4 linked regions of the Homo sapiens genome follow. The protein of the gene in region 1 interacts with the protein of each later gene in a biochemical or structural test. Each region holds a gene or a part of one and is shown in the gene's direction. Other genes may lie near its edges. The genes, in order: PXN, PTPN12, ASAP1 and TLN1.

What was found.
Region 2: the proteins of PXN (region 1) and PTPN12 form a complex in vitro, tested with the Homo sapiens proteins (4 studies listed by BioGRID and IntAct, with this or other methods).
Region 3: the proteins of PXN (region 1) and ASAP1 form a complex in vitro, tested with the Homo sapiens proteins (one study listed by BioGRID).
Region 4: the proteins of PXN (region 1) and TLN1 form a complex in vitro, tested with the Homo sapiens proteins (3 studies listed by BioGRID).

The regions. Positions count from the first base shown.
Region 1 is NC_000012.12:120,262,728-120,270,502, reverse strand, and holds the start of PXN (paxillin), read left to right. Parts: upstream 1-4,772; 5' UTR 4,773-4,873; coding exon 4,874-4,886; intron 4,887-7,775. UniProt on the Homo sapiens protein: Cytoskeletal protein involved in actin-membrane attachment at sites of cell adhesion to the extracellular matrix (focal adhesion). Recruits other proteins such as TRIM15 to focal adhesion.
Region 2 is NC_000007.14:77,624,271-77,631,302, forward strand, and holds part of PTPN12 (tyrosine-protein phosphatase non-receptor type 12), read left to right. Parts: intron 1-2,434; coding exon 2,435-3,405; intron 3,406-7,032. UniProt on the Homo sapiens protein: Dephosphorylates a range of proteins, and thereby regulates cellular signaling cascades. Dephosphorylates cellular tyrosine kinases, such as ERBB2 and PTK2B/PYK2, and thereby regulates signaling via ERBB2 and PTK2B/PYK2.
Region 3 is NC_000008.11:130,051,578-130,055,680, reverse strand, and holds the end of ASAP1 (arf-GAP with SH3 domain, ANK repeat and PH domain-containing protein 1), read left to right. Parts: intron 1-875; coding exon 876-950; 3' UTR 951-3,577; downstream 3,578-4,103. UniProt on the Homo sapiens protein: Possesses phosphatidylinositol 4,5-bisphosphate-dependent GTPase-activating protein activity for ARF1 (ADP ribosylation factor 1) and ARF5 and a lesser activity towards ARF6.
Region 4 is NC_000009.12:35,729,178-35,736,424, reverse strand, and holds the start of TLN1 (talin-1), read left to right. Parts: upstream 1-4,229; 5' UTR 4,230-4,350; intron 4,351-7,247. Other genes in the region: CREB3 (cyclic AMP-responsive element-binding protein 3), read right to left, coding at 1-33, 114-198, 293-377, 1,051-1,119, 1,210-1,316, 2,940-3,029, 3,143-3,210, 3,282-3,429 and 1 more. UniProt on the Homo sapiens protein: High molecular weight cytoskeletal protein concentrated at regions of cell-matrix and cell-cell contacts. Involved in connections of major cytoskeletal structures to the plasma membrane.

The DNA.
Region 1 (7,775 bases):
GCTGGGATTACAGGTGTGAGCCACCATGCCCAGCCAACACTGAGGATATATTGAATTAAATAAAATATATTATTAACATTAATTTTATCTATTTTATTTATTTATTTTGAGATGGAGTCTCACTCTGTCCCCCAGGCTGGAGTGCAGTGGTGTGATCTTGGCTCACTGCAAACTCCACCTCCCAGGTTCAAGCGATTCTCCTGCCTCAGCCTCTGGAGTAGCTGAGATTATAGGTGCCCACCACCATGCCCGGCTAATTTTTGTGTTTTTAGTAGACCAGGCTGTTAGCCAGGCTGGTCTTGAACTCCTGACCTCAGGTTGTTTGCTCACCTCGGCCTCCTAAAGTGCTGGGATTACAGGCATGAGCCGCCGTGCCCGGCCATATATTTTTTTATTTTTTATTTTTTGAGATGGAGTTCTGCTCTTGTAAGCCAGGCTGGATCTTGGCCCACTGCAACTTCCGCCTCCCGGGTTCAAGCGATTCTCCTGACTCAGCCTCCCAAGTAGCTGGGATTACAGGCATGTGCCACCACACCTAGCTAATTTTGTATATTTAGTAGAGATGGGGTTTCACCATGTTGGTCAGGCTGGTCTCAAACTCTTGACCTGAGGTAATCCACCCATCTTGGCCTCCCAAAGTGCTGGGATTACAGGCATGAGCCACCGTGCCTGGCCTGTTTCTTTTATTTTTTTAAAGATATTTTTTAGAGAGGAGGTCTTGCTAGTTTCCCAGTTTGGACTCAAACTCCTAAACTCAAGCAATCCTCCTGCCTCAGTATCCCATGTAGGTGGGACTACAGGCATATGCCATTGCACTTGGCTAAAAAAGTTTTGATTGGGCCGGGCGCGGCGGCTCACACATGCAATCCCAGCACTTTGGGAGGTGAGGCAGGTGGGATCACCTGAGGTCAGGAGTTCAAGACCAGCCTGGCCCACATGGTGAAACCCCATCTCTACTTAAAGAAATGCAAAAATTGGCCAGGCGCGGTGGCTCACGCCTGTAATCCCAGCACTTTGAGAGGCCGAGATGGGCGGATCACGAGGTCAGGAGATCGAGACCATCCTAGCTAACACGGTGAAACCCCGTCTCTACTAAAAATAGAAAAAATTAGCTGGGCGTGGTGGCGGGCGCCTGTAGTCCCAGCTACTTGGGAGGCTGAGGCAGGAGAATGGCATGAACCTGGGAGGCAGAGCGTGCAGTGAGCCGAGATCGCGCCACCGCACTCCAGCCTGGGCGACAGAGCAAGACTCCGTCTCAAAAAAAAAAAAAAAAACAAAAACAAAAATTAGTCGGGTGTGATAGCGGGTGCCTGTAATCCTAGCTACTCAGGAGGCTGAGGCAGGAGAATCACTTGAACCCGGGAGGCAGAGGTTGCAGTGAGCTGAGATCATGCCGCTGCACTCCACCCTGGGCGACAGAGTGAGACTCTGTCTCAAAAAAAAGAAAGAAAAAAAAGAAAAGTTTTGATTGCATATCCGGCTTGCATTCTGTTTCTTTTCTCTCTCTTTCTTTCCTTCCTTCCTTCCTTCCATCCTTCCTTCCTTCCTTTCTTCCTTCCTTCCTTCTTTCTTTCTTTGTTTTTTTTTTTGACAGAGTCTCACTCTGTCGCGCAGGCAGGAGTGCAGTGGCACAGTCTCGACTCACTGCAACCTCCGTCTCCTGGGTTCAGGTGATTCTCCTGCCTCAGCCTCCTGAGCAGCTGGAATTACCGGTGCACACCACTATGCCCAGCTAATTTATATATTTTTAGTAGAGATGGTGTTTCGCCATGTCGGCCAGGCTGGTCTCGAACTCCTGACCTCAAGTGATCCGCCCGCCTTGGCCTTCCAAAGTGCTGGGATTACAGGTGTGAGCCTGGTCGAGTTCTGTTTCTATTGCTGAGTGAAGAGTGTTATTTTGTGGTGACAAGGACCATTCTAAGTACTAGGTGTGTCGTTTCTTATTTAGTCCTATGAGGACTCTGAGAGGTAGCTACTATTAACCTTTCTATAGGGGAAGAAACTGAGGCACAGAGTAAATTGCCCAAGATGAACCACTAGCAAGAAGTCAGCAGGGTTGTCCATCTGCTCTGTCAATGTCGTTTAATCTTTAGGAAGAATGAAAAAACCTGATTGATTTTATCAAATGCAAGGGACTGAATGTTCATATCCTTGAAAATTCATATGTTGAAATCTAATCTCAATTCGATAGTGTTAGGAGGTGAGGCCTGACAGGTGATTAGGTCATGAGGGCAGGGCCCTCATGAAAGAGATTAGTTAGTGCCTTTATTAAAGGGACCCTCTTTGAGCCGTGTGAGGGTACAAAAAGTCAACAGTCTGCAACCCAGAAGAGGGCCCTCACCAGAACCTGACTGTGCTGGCACCCTGATCTTGAACTTTCAGCCTCCAAAACTGTGAAAAAATAATTTCTGTTGTTTATAAGTCACTCGGTCTACAGTATTTTGTTGTAGCAGCCTGAACTAGACACCAAGTTTAATTGCTGTGGGGTGAGAGTCCAAGGGAAGAAGGAAGCCAGGGAGGAAATGGGGGTTTAGGAATGATTTACATGAGGAAATCCCTGGCAGGGACCTGAGTGTTCGAGTGCACCAGCACTCAACTCTGAAGCTTCAGTTCTCTTTAGAACTCTGCATAGCAATGGGAAACTTGCCCATTCAATGGGTGCCTCGCATTTCCAGACCACACAGCTTTGAAAAAGAAAGGTTTTAGACCTTTGGAGAAGTGGACAAGCGTATGCCCTGGGGTTGGTCTAAGTTGTTAGCAGTTTCACTTAGCCGTTTCATAACCAGGCCTTGGCATAAGCCTCCCCAGGTTCAAATCTCAGTTTCCTTACTTATTAGCTGTATGACCTGGAGTAATTCAACCTCTGACTCTCAACTCTTCCAGCTGTAAAAGGGGCTAACAATGCTCATCTCCTAGGCTTGTGGTCAGTATTAAATGTCTTGTCTACAGACCTTTGCACATGCTGTTCCACACAGCTGGGAGTGGGGCGAGGCTACTCATCCTTCATGCTAACCACTTTGCTCTTTTGCGTGCACCTTTAGATTCAAGAAGGTAGACATCATGTTAGTCTTATTCATCATCCCAGCCTACGCAACAAAGCAAGACTGTGTCTTAAAAACACAAAAACAGGCTGGGCGTGGTGGCTCACACCTGTAATCCCAGCACTTTGGGAGGCTGAGGGGGGCGGATCACCTGAAGTCAGGAGTTCAAGACCAGCCTGGCCAACATGGTGAAACCCTGTCTCTACTAAAAATACAAAAATTAGCCAGGCATGGTAGTACACGCCTGTAATCCCACCAGGAGGCAGGAGATCACCTGAGATCAGGAGTTCAAGACCAGCCTGGCCAACATGGTGAAACCCCATCTCTACTAAAAATACAAAAATTAGCCAGGCATGGTGGTATGCGCCTGTAATCCCAGCAGGAGGCAGGAGAATCACTTGAACCTGGGAGGCGGAGGTTGCAGTGAGCTGAGATTGCACCACTGCACTCCAACCTGGGCGACAGATTGGGACTCCATCTCAAACAAAAACAAAAACACAAAAACTAAAACAAAATAGAGGTATGTGCAAGATGCTGGAAAACCACGCAATAGAGTGTTTGAGGAACAGTCTTTGGTCTTGAATTTATTATAGGAGAATGTGGCAGCCACAGAAGCTGCTTGGATCTGCCTTTATAAAATGACTGAACATGGTGGGAGCATTGGAACCCGGATACTTCTGCCCAAGGAGACTTCTCATTTTTTTTGTCCTGGAATTCCCTGATGGGTTGACCTGTTTGTCAGATCTGAGTCTCCTTGCCCAACCCTGCTTATTTCCCCTTCTCTGTCACGGGCATTACCCCTAGCTTTATCTCAGCATCTCATCTGCTTTCTGGAGGACCTGATCTGACCCAGAAGGCCTGGATTCTTGAGGGACAAGGGGAACTCGAAGCTGTACTTGCAGAGCAGTTTTATATAAAATCCACAAACTGCCATCACCCATCCCAACGGGTAGGGAAGTACCTCTAGGAGGATTAATTTAGAGAATAGCTATATAGTGTCTGTCTATTCAGACACTCAATAAATGGTAGTTGTTATTATTACCCAATTTCCGAGTGTGTGGGAGCACTGGGTGTGACTTTCCTGTAGTTTTCCCTTTAATGTCTAATCTGGGGACCCCTCTGCCCCATGCAGTTTTGGAAAAGTGTCTAGGGAGGGTGGCTGTGTGGAAGTAATATTAAGAGAGATGGAACCACACAGGTATTGGGTTTGGGCCAGAAAGGGTGAACTGCGAGCTGCACTGCCATTGATCCAGAGGACGACCCCAGGAAAGGTCAGCCACGGGCTCCGGGCCTTGCCTGGTACTGATTTATGGTCCTCCTGGGTGGTGACCTACAGGTGACAGACGGACAGGTGGGCAAAACTGACTGTCCAGTGGACAGGCATGTGATGACCCAGTGGCTGACGAATGCACAGACACATGGCTGACTGTGGACGGATTTGTCATCCGCAGGGTCAGGCAAGTGACTTTGAGAGGGACAGAAAGATGGATGGGAGTGGCTGGAGGCCTGGGAGCCGCCCACCTGCCCGCTTAGCCGCGAGGGGGCGCCACCGCCCCGCCCAGCGACGCCCACTGCCCGGGCTCTTGGCGGGGGCGGGACCAGCGTGCGCAGGGGGCGGGGCCAGCAAGCTCGCGGGGGTGTCCGGGGGCGGGGCGCGCGTGCACAGGGGGCGGCCGGGGGCGGGGCGCGCGGCGGGCGCGGGCGCGGGCGCGCGCGGCGGCGGCGCGTTCCGTTCCGGGCCGAGGCTCGCGGCGGAAAAGTTGCGGGGCATAGACGAGCGGCCCCGGGACGGGCAGCTAGCGCGACCCTGAGCCGGCGCCCGTGGTCCGGCCATGGACGACCTCGGTGAGTGAGCGGGAGGCCGAGGGAGGAGGAGGCGAGAGGCGCGCAGCTTGGGGCCAGGAGGGCGCCAGCGAGCGGCAGGGGCCGCGGGATCCCACCCTCGGCGGCCCCGGCCTCAGCTCCTGTCCCTGCCGGCCGGGGCTCCGCGGGGCTGGGATCCCTAACCGGGCCTTAGTCTCGGGCCAGGCCGGCCCCGGCACCGACCGCACAGCAGCGACCCCCCGTCTGGGACGGCTTCACCTCTGGACCCCCGACCTCGGGGACCCATCACCATCTCCCAGAAGGGCCCCAGGGACCAGCCCGCCCCTCAGGGACCCACCCCGTCCGCTGCAGGGACGAGACTTCCTGCGGCAGACCACCTCGTCAGCTACGGGACCCTCACCTCGCAGACCTCTCCCCACCCCCACCTCACAGATCGACCGCCCAACTCGGGGAGCAGCTGCCCGATCTCATGGGCTGCTCCCTCATTTCCTCGACCTGCTCCCCGTCCCTCCAGGGCCGCCCCCCACTTCACAGACTAGCACCCCCCTTCAGGGATAACCCCTCGGAGCCCACCCCTTTCATTTCACAAGTCAGATGCAAAAGCTAGAGATGAGCGTGTGATGACCACACCCCCATTTCAAAGACAAGTTTCCCAGTCTGCCTGCTCTTCTGACCCCCCACTTCAAATCTGGTCACCCCGTTTCAAGGACCCATCACTCATTTTCTCTCACTGACCTCCCCGCTCTGTGGACCAGCCCCTCAATTCACAGACCAGTCCGTCTACCATGGTATCTAAGTCTAGAACGGTAATTTGGGAGTCCTGATTCTCTCCCCACCCCTAGATTCTGGTGAAATGCCAGGGGAATGAGGTGGAAGGTGGGCCCCAAGGTATGACCATCCCTGAACGTGTCCTGGCTAGCAGAGTCCCCTCCACCCTCTCTGCGTCAGGCCCTGCTGGAAGCCACGCAGGTGAAAGAGGACAGGATGCCCAGAACAGAGTTTTACTGTTTTCCTGTTATTGGAGCCCCAAGGCTACTCTTTTCAGTCCAGTCTTGATCTGGTGTTAGGGGAAAGAAAGTATCTCCTGGAAGCCGACTCTAAACCCAAGGGGGTTGGTGCCAGGGTTCTAGGAATGCCTTGGGTGGCGTGAACGCAGGAGTGGGAGGATTCGCTGTCTCTCCCTCCCCTTCACGCCTGTAGCTGGAGGGCCCTGAGCTTGGGAGGTGAGGAGGGGGGCAACGTTTCTTCTCTGCAGGAGCCTTGTCTTTCCTCTCTGGACTGTGGGTGGCTTGTGTGACCACTGATGCTTCCTCTGTCCCAGGCTCTGAGGAGTAGATTCAGCAGACAGGACTGATGGACCTCTACCAAGCAGCGCCGGGCACTAAGTTAAGACTGGCTATTTGTAGGTGCTGGACTTGACTGCTTCCCTCCAGCTTCCTTTTGGGATCAGGGTGCCCCTGAGATCCTGGAGCTGGGGTTGGTGTAGGGTCCTGCCTGTTTTGCAGAGTGAGATGGCTGCCAAGCGTGGTTCTGCCTTTGGGTCAGGCTTGGCACCCATTTTTCCAGTGTGCTCAAGGTTGGCATGGCTTCCAGGCAGGTATTTTTTTTTTTCACATAAAAATAGCTCAGCTGGAAGGAGGCTGGGGGATGTTCTTTGAACCAGGATCTAAGAGTCTGAGTGCTTTCCCAGTGGGAACTGGGAGCAAAGTTACAGTTTCTAAAGTGCTGGTGCAGTTCTGTTGCTTCTCGGCAGTCCCCGTGCTGTTTCAAGGACTGAGAAAGTCTTTGTAGAGCTCGCCATCGAAATCTGGAATTCCTGTCTTCTGACAGTCTTCCATTTAGGGCCAGGAAACTGAGTTCTGAAAGGAAAGAGAGTACTGTATACGGGAGAGGGGATTGTAGGGATTTAAATTGCTGTTTGTGGAGTACTTCCCTCTACCTCGATTTGTGATATCCTCACAACAACCCTTTTATCAGATTCCACCTTAAAGCCAATGCTGTCATGACCACCTGCCTTTTTACAGATTGAGAAAGCCGAGACGAAGAGAGGCTGATTCTCTTGCCCAAGGCTGCACAGCCATGAAATGACAAAACCATAACTGGAAGCCCAATTCCTAGCTCCCAGATCTGTGGCTCTTGTATACCGAGAAGACTTTTTTTCCTGGGGAGGAGGCAAGGGCACTTGAAGGAGGGGTTGCCACTGGGTGATGGCGATCACCTGTAACTTCTACTGCTTTCTACCATAGACTCCCAGTTGCTTACATCCGGGCTGCCCGACTTCCTTGGCCTGAGCTCCCAAGGGGCAAGCCACGCCTGACTGACCGGAGCCTGGGGTGGGAGGAATGGGGTGTGCAGGAGGGGAGAGGAATTTGCCTTTGCACTGGGGCCCCGTCAGCTGTCTGGATGGCGGCTCAGCACACTGCCATCAGCTGTTTTCCTTAGGGTGGCTCAGCTGTTTTCCTTAGGGTGGACACAAAGCCCAGACCTCTTGTTTTTATTTTTCTCCTGAGCGTGCTCTCAGCCGTGTGCCTCCTGGTCCCTAACACAGGGGAGAGTTTATGGTGTGTCCGGTAGCAAGGCCAGAGGGTGCATCACCTCCTCTGTGACTTTGTTTTTTGGTCTAATAAAAAATGGGGAACTCTTCTCCTTCCCATAGTTGCCAATGACAGACTCACCATGTGCTGCTTAATAAGTTACAAATTTATAGCTCTCTGAGCAGAAAAATATCAACACAGCGTGTTCTGCCCTTCCCTGTGTGTTCTCTCCACTTTGTTCTTTGGGGTGGCTGCTTGGTGGCTTTTCTTATTACTGTTTAGATGCTGGTTTGGCCCAGAGTTCGCTCTGTTCAAGTTCTGGCCGGAGTTTCCTGGACAGAGTTCCCACAACACTGAGATGCACTCTGACTGTGTT
Region 2 (7,032 bases), on another chromosome or scaffold:
AAAAAAAAAAGAATCTACTTGTAAAACTTGAACAGATATAGGAATATCTTATGAGAGTATTGCTGTCATTTTAATATGATCAGTATTCTGGAGATATTCATTTATCTTCTCATGTCCTAGGAATGTGGGAATGTGTCTAGAGAATCTGAACTTCACAGAGTCTTTATTTATTTATTTTATTTATTTTGAGACAGAGTCTTGCTCTGTCACCTAGGCTGGAGTGCAGTGGCGTGATCTCAGCTCACTGCAACCTCTGCCTCCCGAATTCAAGTGATTCTCCTGACTCAGCTTCCTGAGTAGCTGGGATTACAGGCGCACGCTACCATGCCTGACTAGGGTTTTGTGTTTTTAGTAGAGACGGGGTTTTGCCATGTTGGTTAGGCTGGTCTCAAACTCCTGATCTTGTGATCCGCCTGCCTTGGCCTCCCAAAGTGCTAGGATTACAGGCGTGAGCCACCATGCCTGGCCCACAGAGTCTCTTTTAAGGGGAAACCTGGTGTACCATGTGATTACTGCCAGTTATCTGGTTGGATAAAAAAAGGTTGATCACCTGGGGGGAGAAAAAAAAGCAAAAACTCTGAGGTGGGGTCCAGTGGCTCACCCCTGTAATCCCAGCACTTTGCGGGGGCCGAGGCAGGCAAATCACTTGAGGCCAGGAGTTGGAGACCAGCCTGGCCAACATGGCAAAACCCCATCTCTACTAAAAATACAAAAATTAGCCAGGTGTGGTGGCATGTGCCTGTAGTCCCAGCTACTCAGGAGGTTGAAGCACAAGAATTGCTGGAACCCAGGAGGTAGAGGTTCCAATGAGCCAAGATGGTGCCACTGCACTCCAGCCTGGGTGACAGAACAAGACTCTATCTCAAAAGAAAAACAGAACACAAAAACTTAAATATACAAGCCCTCAAGAAGTTTGCTTCATATAAAGTTCTTAAAAAGCAACAAAGCCTGGGCAACATAGTAAACCCTATCTTCTTCTTTGGTTTTTTTTTTTTTTTGAGACAGGATCTCATTCTTTCACCCAGGCTGGAGTGCAGTGGCATGATCAGAGCTCCCTGCAGCCTTGACCTCCCCAGGCTCAGGTGATCCTCCTACCTCAGCCTTCCTAGTAGCTGGGACTACAAGCATGCATTGCCACATCCAGTTAATTTTTTTGTATTTGTTAAAGACACAGGGTTTTGCCATATTGCCCAGGCTGCTCGCTCTCTCTCTCTCTCTCTCTCTCTCTCTCTCTCTCTCTCTCTCTCTCTCTCACTCTCACTCTCACTCGCGCTCTCTCTCTCGCTCTCTCTCTCTTTTTTTTTTTTTTTTTTTTTTTGGAGACAGTCTTGCTCTGTCGCCCAGACTGGAGTGCAGTGGCGTGATCTCAACTCACTGCCATCTCCACCTCCTGGGCTCAAGCAATTCTCCTGCCTCAGCCTCCCAAGTATCTGGGACTGCAGGTGTGTGCCACCACACCTGGCAAATTTTTGTATTATTAGTAGAGATGGGGTTTTACTGTGTTGCTCAGGCTGGTCTCAAACTCCTGAGCTCAATTGATCCACCCACCTTGGCCTCCCAAAGTGCTGGGATTACAGGCGTGAGCCACCATGCCTGGCCCCTATTTCTTTAAGGAAAAAAATAAAGGCAACTAGAGGGTATAACCCACCCGAACAAAGGAGTATACCCAGAAAGAGGAAAATGAGACCTGGGAAACAGGAGAATCTGAAACCAGAGAGAACATTAGCTCTGTGATGGACTAGGGAACCAGTAGTCCACACTGGAGCAGGAGGCCAAAAGTTACTAACAAGGATGTCTGTGGTATTGATACTTACTATGTGTGCTTGTCATTATTGAGAGGAGGTATACCAATCTGCAAGAAAGTTAGAAGAAAAGCTGAGTAACTGATGATGCATAGAGAGCTAAGCCATCAGAAATCCAAGGCAGTCATTAGGGGAAAACAAGACACTATAGAAGAAAAGATACGAAATCATGGTGTCATAGATGGGAATACTATCTGCAGTCATACGACTGAGGTAATGAAAAATTACAATATAACAGTATTGGAAAGATAGAGAAGGACACTTCCACAGTAGGAAGTCAGTAGAAAATGTGTGAAACAAAGATCAAGAAATAACTTTTGAAATAGTCTGAAATACAGAGGTGTAAATTTTAGAAGCAGCTATAAAAAAATGTTGAAAGTTGATGCCTCTGGCTAACAGGAGGGCTGCGGGGCAGAGACTATGTTTTTCATTCAAAGTCTTGTATTTGACTTTTTAAACAGTATATGTGTATTACCTTGATGAACATTAAATTTTCTTAGTCTGAAAAACTGCAGTTTTTATTCGCAACCAGATTGTAATGGCTCTTAATATGCTACTCTTAGCTACATAATTCTCAGGTATCAACTTGTTTAACAGTCTTAAAATGCCCTTTTTAAATGTTTGTTTTTCAGTTGCCTTGTTGAAGGGGATGCTAAAGAAGAAATACTGCAGCCACCGGAACCTCATCCAGTGCCACCCATCTTGACACCTTCTCCCCCTTCAGCTTTTCCAACAGTCACTACTGTGTGGCAGGACAATGATAGATACCATCCAAAGCCAGTGTTGCATATGGTTTCATCAGAACAACATTCAGCAGACCTCAACAGAAACTATAGTAAATCAACAGAACTTCCAGGGAAAAATGAATCAACAATTGAACAGATAGATAAAAAATTGGAACGAAATTTAAGTTTTGAGATTAAGAAGGTCCCTCTCCAAGAGGGACCAAAAAGTTTTGATGGGAACACACTTTTGAATAGGGGACATGCAATTAAAATTAAATCTGCTTCACCTTGTATAGCTGATAAAATCTCTAAGCCACAGGAATTAAGTTCAGATCTAAATGTCGGTGATACTTCCCAGAATTCTTGTGTGGACTGCAGTGTAACACAATCAAACAAAGTTTCAGTTACTCCACCAGAAGAATCCCAGAATTCAGACACACCTCCAAGGCCAGACCGCTTGCCTCTTGATGAGAAAGGACATGTAACGTGGTCATTTCATGGACCTGAAAATGCCATACCCATACCTGATTTATCTGAAGGCAATTCCTCAGATATCAACTATCAAACTAGGAAAACTGTGAGTTTAACACCAAGTCCTACAACACAAGTTGAAACACCTGATCTTGTGGATCATGATAACACTTCACCACTCTTCAGAACACCCCTCAGTTTTACTAATCCACTTCACTCTGATGACTCAGACTCAGATGAAAGAAACTCTGATGGTGCTGTGACCCAGAATAAAACTAATATTTCAACAGCAAGTGCCACAGTTTCTGCTGCCACTAGTACTGAAAGCATTTCTACTAGGAAAGTATTGCCAATGTCCATTGCTAGACATAATATAGCAGGAACAACACATTCAGGTGCTGAAAAAGGTAATAATATAGTGTCAAATACTTAAATGTCTTTCCTATGTGCTAGTCACTGTTTTAAGCACTTTAGCTGTATTGATTTATTATGTTTTATTCCACACTCTACCATAGAACCTACAGCAAAATCTGTCTTAGATACTAATTTTTTAATATAAGCTTTTAATGTATTGTTAACAATTTGGTCACATTATATTACTGGGTTTTGTGTTTCTAAATTATTTTAGTAGTTATAACTGGATAACTTATTTTCTTTTTCTTCTGTATTATAGATCTTAGTGTTTTTGTATCGGTCAAAAATTTATCTGACTGAATAATTAGAAATAATTTAGGGAAGAATCACTTAAAATAACAGTGGCAAAAATACTGTAGAATGTCTTGATTGGCCATATAATGTTACTCGTTTTTCCTAAATGTTTAGTCATTTTTTACTGTTCCTTTAACTACAGATTACATTTTTTTGTTTGTTTGTTTTTACTGTCTTCACAAATGCTTCCAAATATGGCTGCTTCCAACCCTGAGTTTAACCCAGGAACAATACTGCAAACTGCTCAATTCAGTAGTGAGTGGGCTATATGCATACCTACTCATCAAAGCTATTATTTAAAGAATTATTATTTTTTTAGCACTCTTAGCATTTCAAGATAATGCATGCACTCAGTTCCCAAAGTGTATTATTGCTTCTTGAAACTCCTCTTTGATCTGCTGAAAGTAATGATGGCTACCATCTTAAACAGACCCTAAGGTTGAGAGTAAACATATAAATTTGAAAGCTGTTTATTGATATATTGATTATCAGTGGTCACTTACCTATCAGTGAACTTTGGTAGTGACACATACAGACTGGTATTTATAACGTGCAGGCAAAATAAGTACTGTGACCTTGAAAGATTTTTTTTTTTTTTTGAGACTTGCACTCAAAAGATTTTTTTTTTGAGTCTTGCACTGTCACCCAGGCTAGAGTGCAGTGGCAAGATCTCGGCTCAGCCTCCCAAGTAGCTGGGATTACAGGCACCCACTACCACACCCAGCTAATTTTTATGTTTTTAGTAGAGACAGGGTTTCGATATGTTTGCCAGGCTGGTCTCAAATTCCTGGCCTCAAGTGATCTGCCCACCTAGGCCTCCCAAAGTGCTGGGATTACAGACGTGAGCTACCACACCTGGCCTTGAAAGATTATTTTCTATTTCTGACCCATTATATACCACCCATACTGTAGTGCTTGTATTTTCTCTCACACATACTGTATTTTTTAACTTGAGAGAGTGTATTTGGTAGACTAGATGACAGTCTTTTTGAGACAGAGTTTTGCTCTTGTTGCCCAGGCTGAAGTGCAGTGGCGCAATCTTGGCTCACTGCAACCTCCGCCTCCTGGGTTCAAGGAATTCTCCTGCCTCATCCTCCCTAGTAGTTGGGAATACAGGCATGCGCCACCATGCCTGGCTAATTTTTTGTATTTTTAGTAGAGACAGGGTTTCACTGTGTTAGCCAGGATGGTCTGGATCTCCTGACCTCGTGATCCGCCCACCTCGGCCTCCCAAAGGGCTGGGATTACAGGCGTGAGCCACCACGCCCAGCCAGGTGACAGTCTTAAACTATTTGCTTAAATTACAGAATTATCTTTTCTTGATTTATCTTTGTTTTATTTGAAGGATCTTTAGAAGATAATGAATAGTATAATATTACTTTACCAGTTTACCATAATTTTAAATTGCTAATGTCTTTTGTTCCTCAGCTTCAGAATTTGAAATATAACTGCCCAGCTGTAACTATATAAGAAAATATGTAGATAAGAAATTTTCATTTTGAGTTTTTAGTATATCAAGCATGTGGTATTGTACCTAGGAAGTTTTATTGTTTTTTTGTTGTTGTTTTGTTCTTTTGCTTTTTTTTTTAAAAAAAACCAAAAAACCATTACTGGAAATAGGATTTGGTGAGGGCCAGAAAGATGTATGATGTGATATGCTTATTAAAAGTTACTACTACATGACGAGTCTGTTGGTGGCTCATGCCTGTAATCCCAGCATTTTGGGAGGCTGAGGCAGGAAGTTCACTTGAGCCCAGGAGTTCATAACCAGTCTGGGTGACATAGTGACACCCAATCTCTACAAAAGATAAAAAACTAGCCGGGCATGGTGGTGCACACTTGTGGTCCCAGCTACTCTGGAGGCTGAGGTAGGAAGATCACTTGAGCCTAGGAGCTCAAGGCTGCAGTGAGCCATAATTGCGTCCCGGCACTCTGCCTGGGCAACAGAGGGAGACCCTGTCTCAAAAAAAAAAAAAAAAAAAGAGTAAGATATAGCTAAAAGCACCCTACTATGTGCCAGCTCATTTCTGTTTGTTTGGTTTTGTATTTCAAAGCAAAAATCACTATACATGTGATTTCTGGTTTCTTTTTACTCAACCTTAACTATGTTATTGGTTTGATTTTAACCGAAGATTTTCCTGTGTGTAAATGTTCTTTGTTGCAGCATAACTACAAGTAGTCTCATTTTTAATGTGTTGCCAAATATTTACCATATGGATTATTTACTTTATAGATTGTTTATTTACCTTATAGATTATTATTTCCTTTGTAGATCATTATCTTATAGAGCCATTGGCACCAGAATTAGAGTTTTGGGGGGTTTTTTGGTCCTAGAACTTGTTAGTGAATTACAGTCACACATTTCTTAATGGCAGGGATATGTTCTAAGAAAAATATGTCATTAGGCAGTTTTGCCATTGTGTGAATGTCATAGAATGTATTTACACAAACCTAGATGGTATAGTATATACTACACATCTGGGCCATACAATGTAACCTCTTGCTCCTAGGCTACAAACTTGTATAGCATATTACCATACTCAACAATTGTAACACAATGGTAAGTATTTGTGTATCTAAACATAGAAAAGGTACAGTAAAAATATGGTATCATAATCTTACAGGACCGCTGTTGTTTATGCGGTCTTGTTGATGAAAACATCATTATGTAGTGCATGACTATAATGGAATACTTTTGTATTGATACCTAAAAAAAACTTTTGCATAAGTTACTGCCTGACAAAAATTCTTAGCTATCAATTCTAATTTCAGTCTTGACTTAGGCCTCCTGAAAGATTTCTCAGATTCAACTACAGAAGGCCCCATACAGTGTATGATTTGCAAAAGCCTATATAAAATACGCAATATCTGGTTGGATAACCTCTAAAACAAAAGTTTTTAACAGGAAAGGCAGCCCAAAGTTCCAGGGAGAAACATGCATTTGCAAAGCAAGGGCCACGCTTAGAAAATAAAAGTTTTTAAGGGTGAGAACTGCCATGAGAGAAAAAGCACAGAGTTTCTGGAAGATAACTGATAGAAAAAGGGCTGAACTGCCCTTTTTGTTTTGTTCATTTAATTTAAGAAATGGTACCAGAATGCCAAGATTATGTGTCCCTTCCTTCCAACAGCCATCTCTTCACTGTGCGCTGTTAGTAGCAAGAGGGCAAGGAGACATATGGTGATGACTCAGACTACCACTACTGGATAAGGTAGATAGTTCTTTAGTGGCAAGAGAGAGTTCTGGTACTCTTGGTAGATGTATCAAGTATTGGACTGGAACTCCTCTTTCAGGAGGACCCAGAAGCTGTATTTTCTTGCGTCTCCAG
Region 3 (4,103 bases), on another chromosome or scaffold:
TTTACAGGTAACTGGCTTACAGGCCAATGCAGCAGACAATAAAATTGCCATTCGCCACCATCAGTCTCAAACTTTCACAGTATTCTTCCTCCACGGTAACCAGAAAACAAGTGATAGTACATAGCAGCCTTTTTTTTTTTTTTTTACTGGCTAGAACAACACTTTACTCACAAAGAGAAGAGACAGAACAAGATTAGCTTTGATTTGAGTATGGTACCCCGCAGTGGGTCTTGCCAGGCAGCTGACACAGCTTAATGGTCTGTATGCATCCTACCTGGGCTGTGGGCAAAGAAACCCCTTCCTTCCCAACTAGGAATAGGTAATAGTACTGGGATTGGCCAGGTGCCATAGCAGCCTTTTCATTTGCTTTTTTTTTTTTTTTTCTTTTTTAAATGTATCACACAAGCCTGGAGAGAAGGGATTTTCTTTAGCCCCACTTAACAGAGAAAAGGCTTAGCAAGGTTTGTGTGAGGTCACCCAGCTGTAAAGGCAGCCAGGCGCCCTGGTTCAGAGCAAGGACTCTAGAGCCCCACGCCTGTGGGAGAGCATGTCACCTCTCTGGGCCACTGTCCCTTCATCTGTAAAATGAAGATTGTAAACTGTATAAGAAATATCCACCTCAGGGGGTTGCTGTGTGGGTACAGCAAGATCCATGTAGAATGCTGAGCATATTGGAAGTTCTGTCGTTTGCTCTTTCCTTATGTAGTTTATGACCGTTAAGCTCTCTGTAGTTCACTAAAGGGTGGGAAGAAGGGTAAGCCTGGGATTCCACCGCCAGGTCTGTGGGCAGACTAGGCTGGGCTCTTACCCACTGGGTTTGTCGTGGGGCCACTGCCTGCTGCCTCCATCCTGACCACTCTCTTTTCTCCCTGCAGATTGGCCACATCGAAGGACAGCCTGAAAGGAAGGGGGTCTTTCCAGTGTCCTTTGTTCATATCCTGTCTGACTAGCAAAACGCAGAACCTTAAGATTGTCCACATCCTTCATGCAAGACTGCTGCCTTCATGTAACCCTGGGCACAGTGTGTATATAGCTGCTGTTACAGAGTAAGAAACTCATGGAAGGGCCACCTCAGGAGGGGGATATAATGTGTGTTGTAAATATCCTGTGGTTTTCTGCCTTCACCAGTATGAGGGTAGCCTCGGACCCGGCGCGCCTTACTGGTTTGCCAAAGCCATCCTTGGCATCTAGCACTTACATCTCTCTATGCTGTTCTACAAGCAAACAAACAAAAATAGGAGTATAGGAACTGCTGGCTTTGCAAATAGAAGTGGTCTCCAGCAACCGTTGAAAGGCATAGAATTGACTCTGTTCCTAACAATGCAGTATTCTCAATTGTGTTACTGAAAATGCAACATTAGCAAAGAGGTGGGTTCTGTTTTCCAGGTGAAACTTTTAGCTCCATGACAGACCAGCCTGTAGTTATCTGTGTACACAGTTTACAGCTACAAAAACCTACTTTGGTATTTATTACAGAAAAGTGCTCAGTTAAATGTAAGTGTTATTCCTTCAGCAAAATATTCACTGACCCAAAACTCTTTATGGCATTTTACAATGCACACAGCCTCATGCAAGTTTAGACAAGTGGATTTATACTGTCTTATGAGTGCCCGCCCCTGATATATTACCTCATTATGCAAAAATAACATATCTTTCATGACTATTTTGACAAAAGTTTAAAACACATATGAAGTTCAAATTTCAGGAACCAAGGACTGCCAGAAAATATTAGCCTCTACATTACGCATGCATTTAGAAGCTTACCTGAAATCTGCCTTTTATAAAGGAATAGTATGGATAAGTGGAATTGTACATTTTTTAAACTTGATTGCCATTAAAGCAGAAATTATAAGGTTGCAACAATATTTGTTTCTAATCACTGGCTTTCTCAAGAGTATGGATTGACATATTGTGTTATGAATGCACATCTCTCAGATGTGTTGAAGCATCCATTGCATCCATTTTTTATTATTTTCTTAGTTTTGTTCTTGGACAAATTTAAACTTTTAAAAGATTATTCAAGATGAATTTAAAAGTCAACCCTTCACACAGTTTCCCTACTGTATGTAGAATCCAGGTGCTGAAACCAAGTGTTTCTTTTCCCATGCTCTTTGTTAAACCCCAATTATAGATAATTTTTCCAGTCTTAAGCTCTGTCCACCTTCAAGTCAATTCATAACCAAGTTTTTGAACGCTGCTATGAATTGCACTGTGAAAAGCACTCTTCCCTCTCAGTTTTCTTTTCATCCCAGCCATGTTTATCAGATCCTTAAGAACATTGTATTTCAGTCTTTTACATCAGTCTGAATTTTGGAAAAGAATGCAATAGTTGTACTCCACAGTCAGTGGAACTGTTCCCTGAGTCCGAGGCTCATGTGTCATTCTGGCACTACATTTGCTTAAATTGCTATTTTGGCAACAGCACAGAAAACTAATATTTTTAAGCAGAGAATCTTGGCAATGAGTGAGAGATGTTAATTTCACAGAAGCACAACTCCCAACCCAACCCTTAGGAAAAGCCCTCTTCCATCGTTACAGTGCTCAGTGAATATTAATTTAGTTCTGCTTAAGTGGTTGCTATACAAACTTTGAATAGCCACCTAATAAATAAACCTTGCATGACAAACCTGCAAAATATTTTATCAGCTGTTATTGGAAAGTGATTTTAAGCAATTGCTTCCTCAGTGTCAGGGCACATGTGAATTTCCACACCAAACAGAGCATGAGGAACCAGTTGACATGCTGGGTTGTGACTGGCAGCTTTAGCAGCCTCGGTACTGAAGCCACACCAGTGTCCGGATGGAAGTCTGCATCTGAGGTTGCTCAGTGTCCCGGTCATTCATTTACACATTTTAACTTGCATTAAAGAGCTGTTCTTTTCTGTGGCCTAGACTCTTTTCACTGATCTCAAAATAAACTGGTTTTTTTCAAAAAAAAAAAAAAAACAAAAACAAAAAAAAAACACAAAAGCTGCATGTCTAAAATTACATGGAGTTAGTGTCTATTCTTTTTCCCCTTTTGCAGCAACTTACACAGCATTTTTAACACCTTTTTTTTCTAGTTTTTTTGTTCGGTTTTGTTTTCCATCAGGAATTTGAGTTCTCTCTAACCCAGCTTACTGTGGGACATAGGAAAACTCAGTAGAAATACCTTTGGTGATCTTGTTGAGTTTAAGTCTGATCTTGATCTTAAACTCAGTAAGCCACTATCTGCAATTTTGTACATTATATAGTATTTTGAAGATATGGAACCTTATGAAAAAAAAATAGCAAATTAGTTCTTTTTCCCCCAGAGGGGAAAGTTATGTTCTGCAAATAGTGTGTGTCTTATTTTACTGTTGAACAGCAATTGCTATTTATTTTTTTATTGCCTAGAACTTCAACATGTTGTATAGGAATCCTGTAGTGCCACTAGTTAAATGCCGAATTCTCATCTGGATGTTACCATCAAACATCAGTACACTTGTCATTTCACATGTGTTTAATGTGACAGTTTTTCAGTACTGTATGTGTTAATTTCTACTTTTTTTAATATTTAAAATTGCTTTTAAATAAACATATTCTCAGTTGATCCCAAACTTCTGAAATCAGGCCATTTTGTGAGTTGTTCACTACCCTGCTGACAGGAGAGAATCAAGGCTTCCTCTGGCTGTGCTTTCGGGTATATAGATGACACAGGTCACTCCAACCCTTGTCAGAGATCACTCTGGATACATAAAAATATGTGGCACTTGCCCCGGCTTACAAACTGTGGGCCTTCGGCCCCTTTCTGTCCTCCACCTTCCGCATTCCACCTCCACCACGTCCACTTGTGCGCCCGTTGATGTGAACAGGGCAAGAAGAGGGTGGAGGGGCACGAGGCTTACATGTTGTCGTGTGGACAGCACTTCTGTCACGTAGCTGTCACAACTAGTGCTGCCACGCAGTGGAGCAGACCTGGCCCAGGCACTCTGCCTGCATTAACCCCTGAATCCTTAGCAAGCCCAGGAGAAGCGTGAGCCCCTCAGCTTTACAGAGCTGACAAATGAGGCTCAGAGGCATTCATTCACACACAGGAGACATGTGGCTTGTAAATCACTAAGGTGGGAGTGCACACAGGTGGTT
Region 4 (7,247 bases), on another chromosome or scaffold:
CACTGGGGAGGGCACGAAGCTGGCGGGACAACACTGAGGAGACAAAGAATCTTCAGAGGCCAACCCAGACCTCTCCCCTTGCCCTGTCTGAGAGCTATCCTTAAGCCTCTTACCTCCATGCTCAGCTGGCAGGCTCCCCCTTGTGTCAGAGGAGTACATAGCAGGTACAAGGAGGAGGCAGAAGGAGACTAGTAGGACCTAGAGCACAGGAAAAAGGAGATGAAGAAGGGCTCTGGATTGCCCTGTCCCCACCAACTGAGAAAAGGATTTCTCCCCTCATCACCATCCTCACCAAGATGCAGGTGCTGCTGCTGCTGGTTTTGTTTGATATCTCAATCACCATGGCCTGGAGTTTCCTCAGTTGATCTAGAAGGGACCTAGAGGAAGAGAGGGGCCAATAGTGAGCATCCCCTGGCCTAGCATCCTGAGACACAGTGAAACTCCTGTTCAGGCCACCTCCTCCATCTCTGCACTGGATCCTCTCTCTTACTTTTCATTCTATTTTTGCAAACGACTTCTTCCTCTCTGGACAAAATGCCTGAAGTTCCTCATTAAAACAACAACAACAACAAAAAGCAAAAACAAAACAAAACAAAAAAACTCTGCCAGGACTTAACCTCCTTTGCGAATATCATCAGTCGTTCCCCACTGTCTGATCAGCTATGCACATAATCCTCACCAGGCATTTTCTATGTTCTCTACCTTCTGTCCCAGCTCATGTGTGTTAAGAGTTCCAGCCCAAGATGACTATGCTGGACTAGTCCTCTTGCCTAGGATGCTTTCTCTCTGCCTAGAATGCTTTCCCAACCCAACCCCAGAATCCTAACTACTATGAAAGCCCATGACGTCTTTCTTACCCCCTTTCTTTTTCTTGGTACTTAACTTATTCTTAGTTACTTGTAAATGTATTCCTCACTACTGGGAGCTTCTTGGAATCAGAGACCTAGTGAAGGCAGCTGCCCAGTTAGAAATCAAGTGTAGGGCAGGGGAAAGAGTGAGAAAGCATTAAATGAGGGGCATAGGAAGGGAATGGTTTGGAGGGATACTTACAAATTCTGTTCCTCCAGAAGCTGTACTTTGTTCTGAAGCTCCATATTCTGGGCTGTGTATTTCAAGACCCTGGGGGAAATAACAAAGATACGGGGATATGGCCTGTATCCTCCCTTCAAAAACCTAATACTTACAACAGAGTCCCTCTCCCTTTCATACCTGCTCTCTAAACCCCCAACATACACCTTCTTTTTCCTGCGGCTCTCTTGAGCAGATCTTTTATTTCGAATCTTCCTCCGCACACGTTTCAGAATTTGTTCCTCTGTCTGAAAGGAAACAGGGAAAGGGATATCATTAGAGGAACTCTAGAAAAAGGAGTTGAAACGCAACTGAGATCAATCTCTTTCCAATACAGAAATCCCTTCTACAGCTTCCCTGACCAACAGGCATTCAGATTCTTTCTGAATGCCTCCACGGACCAGGTGTTAACCCTAACAAGCCAGACCATTTTAAACTATTAAAAAAAAAACTGGTCGGGCAGTATTCAGGCGACGTGGCTCATGCCTGTAATCCCAACACTTTGGGGAGCTAAGACAGGAGGACCGGTTGAGCCCAGGAGTTTGAGACCAGCCTGAGCAACATAGTGAGACCTTGTCTCTACTAAAAATAAAAAATTAGCCGGGTGTGGTGGCACATGCCTGTGGTCCCTGCTACTCAGGAGACTGAGGAAGGAGGATCACTTGAGCCTGAGAGGTTGAAGCTGTAGTGAGCCATGATCTCGCCACTATTCTCCAACCTGGGCAATAAAGCAAGAACCTGTCTTCAAACAAGCAAATAAAAACTTCCTTATCCTGAACCAACAGCTGCCTCCTTATAATTTCTATCCGTTGGACTTACCTAGTATCTCTGGGGCCAAATAGAATAAACCCTGTTTAGCTATTTTAAGGCACTTAACATTTCCTCAGAGCTTAAAGAAAAAAAAAAAGACAAAATTTTTAACTCATCTTCTCAGGATAGACTGCATCCTCTTAGTATCTGTCAAAGATGTGCTCTAGCCAGTATCAAGGAAAGCAAGAGAGTGACTTGTAGAGACAATAACTCTATTGCTACAGTTTCCAAATCCCATGAACTTTCTTAGTAGCCACATCACACTGCTGACTCATCTTGTACTTTGAAGAAATTAAAATTCTTCACTTTGGGAGGCCAAGGTGGGTAGATCACTTGAGCCCAGGAGTTCGAGACCAGCCTGGCAACAAGGCAAAACCCCATTTCTACTAAAAATACCAAAAAAAAAATTGCCGGGCAGGGTAGTGTGCACCTGTAGTCTCAGCTACTCGGGAGGCTGAGGTGGGAGAATCACCTAAGCCCAGAAAGTCAAGGCTGCAGTGAGCCATGATCACATCAGTGCACTCCAGCCTGGGCAACAGAGCAAGACCTTGTCAAAAAATATATATATATTCCTGTAACCTTTCTATTAATGAGCACTGATTTCATCATAGTACCCCAGTACTCTGCTTGTGAAGTTGCCACTCATTGCTTAAAACTGAAAACTAAGGATTTTACATTTATTCATGTACTGCTTAGTCCAACCCTGTTGAACTCTCTAAACAGTTCTACCATTCAGCAAGAGGTGGATTACTATGAAGCCAACGAAGTGTCAAGGCCCTTCACTTACACAGTCCTTTCCAAGGCCCAATACTAATGTTGCACTGATAATTTTGAGTTATTTTTTTAACAGAACACCAAAATTTGTATAAGCCCAACAAAAACGAGGATCTGCCCTTGCATCTGGCATATTGTGTACCTGCCTCAACTTCCTATTAGCAATAAATCTACTAAGTTTCTCACCTCAATCCTTTTTTAAAGTTATTGATATAAAGTTAACAGAATTTGCCTACTTGGGACTTTTAATCCCTTTTCAGCCTTTGTTCAACCAATGAGAGTCTTACCTTAGTGAGAGGAAGTGTCTCAGGCAGAATAAGCCCCTCCTTCTCCAATAGACTCTTCTCCTCATCTGTCAGTACTAGCCTAGCAATCTCCTAGGGTAACAAGAAAGTGGACGGCAGTTGCATGGGGATGTCAGAGAGGAATGGGGAATCCTGCCCCCACCTGGGGAATGTGAGAGTAATCTCCTGAAAATCAAGTCAAGTACCTGCTCTGCCAGCTCCTCCATATGCTGTGGAGTCATCTGGGTCCCCTCTTTTCTACAGCTCTCACTCTCTGCAAAAGGGAAAGTATGAATAGCCAGGCCCATGAACCCTGTCCTCCCCGCAAACTTATTTCAGACTCACCTAGATCCATAGAGACAGTTTCCCGTGGGAGGGAGTAGGTGTGGTCATGGTGGACAAGGCAGGGGTTGGAGGAGCTGAGAATGTTCAACGACGCTGGGGGACTCAGCAGGGAGCACAGCAAATCATCTACTTCCCAGTCGCTCGGTACCTGCGCAGGGTTCCAATGAACAGGCCTTGACCTTATCACCATCACCTGACTTCATGGACATCCCACGCTTTCCCCAGTCAGAACCCCAACCTACCTCAGAAAGCGGCAGCGCCCAGTCCAGTGGGGCCCTCACGGCCTCATCGGGTGCCGTCCCCAAATCTCCACTTTCCTCTAGCAGGAAGGCCAGCAGGTCTTGGTCACCAGCATCCAATTCCAGCTCCATTTGGGACAACTACGGAAAGGGTGGGCCACCGGGCCCCAACGTCCGAAGCCCAGACACGAGCCCCAGGCCAGCTGTAGGCCTCGGGCACCTATCCACTGTCCCTCTACGGCCGGGATTCCCCGCCGGCGGCTTTCCATAGCCCTCTCCGGACCCGCCTCCCAGGCTCAATTCTCCTCAGCCTCCAACGCAGCGAAAGTGACGCACCCCACCCCGTGGCACTGTGGGACTTGGAGTTCCCTCCAACTGAGAAGAGGCTTGGGTGCAGCGCCACGTCCCAGGGGCTATGCAAATGTAGGGGACGGCCCTGCTGCCGCCTCGCACCCCGAGGGCGGGGGTTCCGGGGCTCCGGCTCCGCCTTCTACCCCAAGCTAGAAAAAGGAAGAGTTCTAGCCTGAAAGGGAACTCGGGCGTCGTCCTGGCGTCCTCTCCGGATTGCGCCGCACCCTCGCTTCCTGCCAGGGAGGGGCTGCCGGGCTTTGGCGGCTCCCGAGCATCGAGAACGGGGCCAGAGCAGCTTCCTGCCTGCCCCCCGCGACCATAGAGCGCGGGCCCAGGGCGCCGCCCGCGGGTGGGGGACGTTCCCAGGACGGAAGTGGCCGAGAGAGTGTCGAAGGGAGGGCGAGGCCGGAGCCCGAGGGCGACCCGAGAAGCGGCGGGGCGGCGGGCCGGCGGGCGGGGCGCAGAGCCAGGCAGCGCAGGTAGGCCAGACCGGGCCGGGCGGGGGCCTTAGGGTGGGGCCGCGGGGCCTGGCCCCGGGGCGGGCGGGCCCTGCCTCTCTTGCGTGTCCGGTTCGGGTCCTATTAGTTGGAGAGGTCAGCGTCCAGCGCATCTCGGCTTGAGCTCGGCGTGAAGTAGGCCGTCTTGGGGAAGACAGGCCTTTCCTGGGAGCAGTCCTATGTCTGGGATAGGCTTTGGGGAGCGTGAGGAGTCGGGTGGCAGCGGGGCGCAGGGCGGGGACGGGCTTTGGTGTTAGCTGATAGCGGGCATGTGGGTAGGAAAGCTTTGGGTGAGTTGGGGATTAGGTGGGGTCCGTTTAGGAATCAAGGGTCGCTATAGGAGTTAAAAGCTGGGGTTAAAACTTAAGAGTTAGTGTGAGTCAGGTCCGTTTTAGATAGGTAAGGTTTAGATTACGGTCATTATCTTGTTTGCTGGGATGGCCATCATACGTCATAATTTGAGTTCAGGGTCAGGTTAAGGGTCAACAAACAACAGGAATCAGGTTAGAGCTTGTTTGAGGGATTAAAGAATGTTGGCATGGTCGGTGTTAAGGATAAACAGTGAAAGCGTGAGTTAGGAATCAAATTATAAATGAACTTTAGGCTTAGGGGTCAACATTTAGGGTTAACATCAGGGGATTTGGTGCTAAAGGCAAAACTTAGATCAGTTTCAGGGATCAGGGATTGGATATGAGTCTGTGCTAGGAAAGGGATGAATGTCCAAGCCGGTACTGGGAATCAGGAAACAAATTAGAGGTGGGGTTAATGTTAGGAATTTGGGGCAGCTTTAGGGGTTGTGGTTTGAGGCTAGCATAGTTGACCTTGAGCAGATAAAATTTAAGAGGTTGGCAGTAGGTAAATGCCCTTCTTTTGTAGGGAAATCCTTTATTCCTATGTAGTTACAGGGGCTTCTTTTTACCCAGAGAGATAAACTAATTTCAGGCTAGCGTTCTGGCTTTAGCTAGAATTGCAGGCATCTGGGATTCCAGCTTCTTTATTCCATTCTCTAAGCCCAAGGCCCTTGCTGTGGCCACCACAGTTAGGGGACAGAGATTCTGGACTGTGTTGTTTACAGACAACATAGGTGGGAAATAGGGACCCAGGATGTACAAGGCCTAGTCACAAGTTGGGGACTGCCTAGGGAAGAAGGAGCTGATGACTATGGGGGAAGCTAACCAAGGAATCACTGTTGCCATGGGAGAAGGGAATAACTGAATCCCCTGAAAGTTTAGCCCTGCTTCTCCCACTTCACTTGTTCTCTTGGTATTAAGCCCTCCTCTCCAACTCTCATCCCTGACTCTGCATTTCACACCCATCCTGCCTATCCCCTTACAAAATACTTCCCTTGCCTTTAACTCTCCCATGCTCATCTTATCATCCGTTCCCATCCTTAGTTCTACCTCCCTCACCAACCTTTAATCCGCACATCCTACCTGAATTTACCCTCATCAAAACCTGAGCTTTCCCATCATTTTAAATTACTCTCCTACCATTTTCACCCAGTCATGTACCTACATTCCACCTGGTCATCTGCTGAATACCCTACTCCCATCCCCTGCTGTGTGTCACCCCCTGGATCTAAGCCTCTTTTAATTTCTTGGACCATTTGTAGATCCCCTTCCCCCACTCCCCAACAGAAAAGAGGAAACGAGACCCAAAGAGGAAACTGGGTCTTGCTGATCCCACGCCCAGCCAGGCCACTGACCACACCCCCACTTCACTCCCAGCCTGACCCTGCCACTGACCACAGCACTATCCTCTACTCAGCCTGACCCAGCCACTGGCTGTACCCCATCCCCCATCCCAGCTCCAGCTTTACTTAGACATTGCCAATGTCCCTTCACTTTCCCACCCCCACCCCAGTCTGATTTAGTGACTGACCACAGGCCCAGCTCTTCTCAACCTCCTATAGCCTGACCTGGCCTCTGACCTCACCCCATCATTCCCTGACTTAGCCACCATCCATGTAATCATTCCCCTTCCCCCAACCTGATGCAGTGACTGGTCATATATGTATCTTATGTATATGTATTTTTCCAAACACCATCATCACCAGCATTCTTTTTCTACACCCTGTCTTCTCATCCTTTTTCTACACCCTGTCTTCCCCATTCCCAGCCTGATGCAGTCACTAACCCAACCCCATCTGCCCCTAGTGGCTACTAATCATATACTCATACCCTTTTTCCCCACAGCCTAACCACATCCCGTAACCACAGCCTCATCCTCACATTCTCTGCCCAACCTGATCCTTTCCCCTCTTCCCAATTCGTCGCCTAAACTCAAGCTGCCCCAGCCGCTAAAGTGGCTGCTGATGATAGGAAGCTGTGGGACTCTAACCTGTCTACCTTAGTAGTTATTAGGTCCTGTCATTTCTACCTCCCCAAACTTGTTCTGAGTGACATCTTCCTCAATGCCATTCCAACTCCGGCTTCATTACCTTTAATTTGTACTAATACAGTGTCCTTCTAACTAATCTCCAAGGTAACTGCCAGAGTTATTTTTCTAAAATCCAGTTCCGGTTATGTCTCTTCTCTGCTCAAAGACTCCCTTGGCTTCCTTTTGTCCTCCAATAAGTAAAATTCCTCATACCCCTCTCCAGTCTTCCTCTGCCTTTCCATCCTAACCCTGACTTCCCCACCACTGCTCCCTTGCAGGTACCCCTGTGCTTCAACAGCCTGCCTGCTCACTTCCCTGAATGCTCCTCCACGATTTACTGCTTCTCCATCTTTGCTTATGCTATTTCTCTGCCTGGAGTGAAAACTACCCCTGACACATCTCCAGCTGGCTGGCGTAGTGGAGAAAGCTTGGGCTTTGCAGTCAGAAACCTGGGTTCGGATCCTGGCTTCACAACTTATTATTTGGAGAAGTATTTGAAC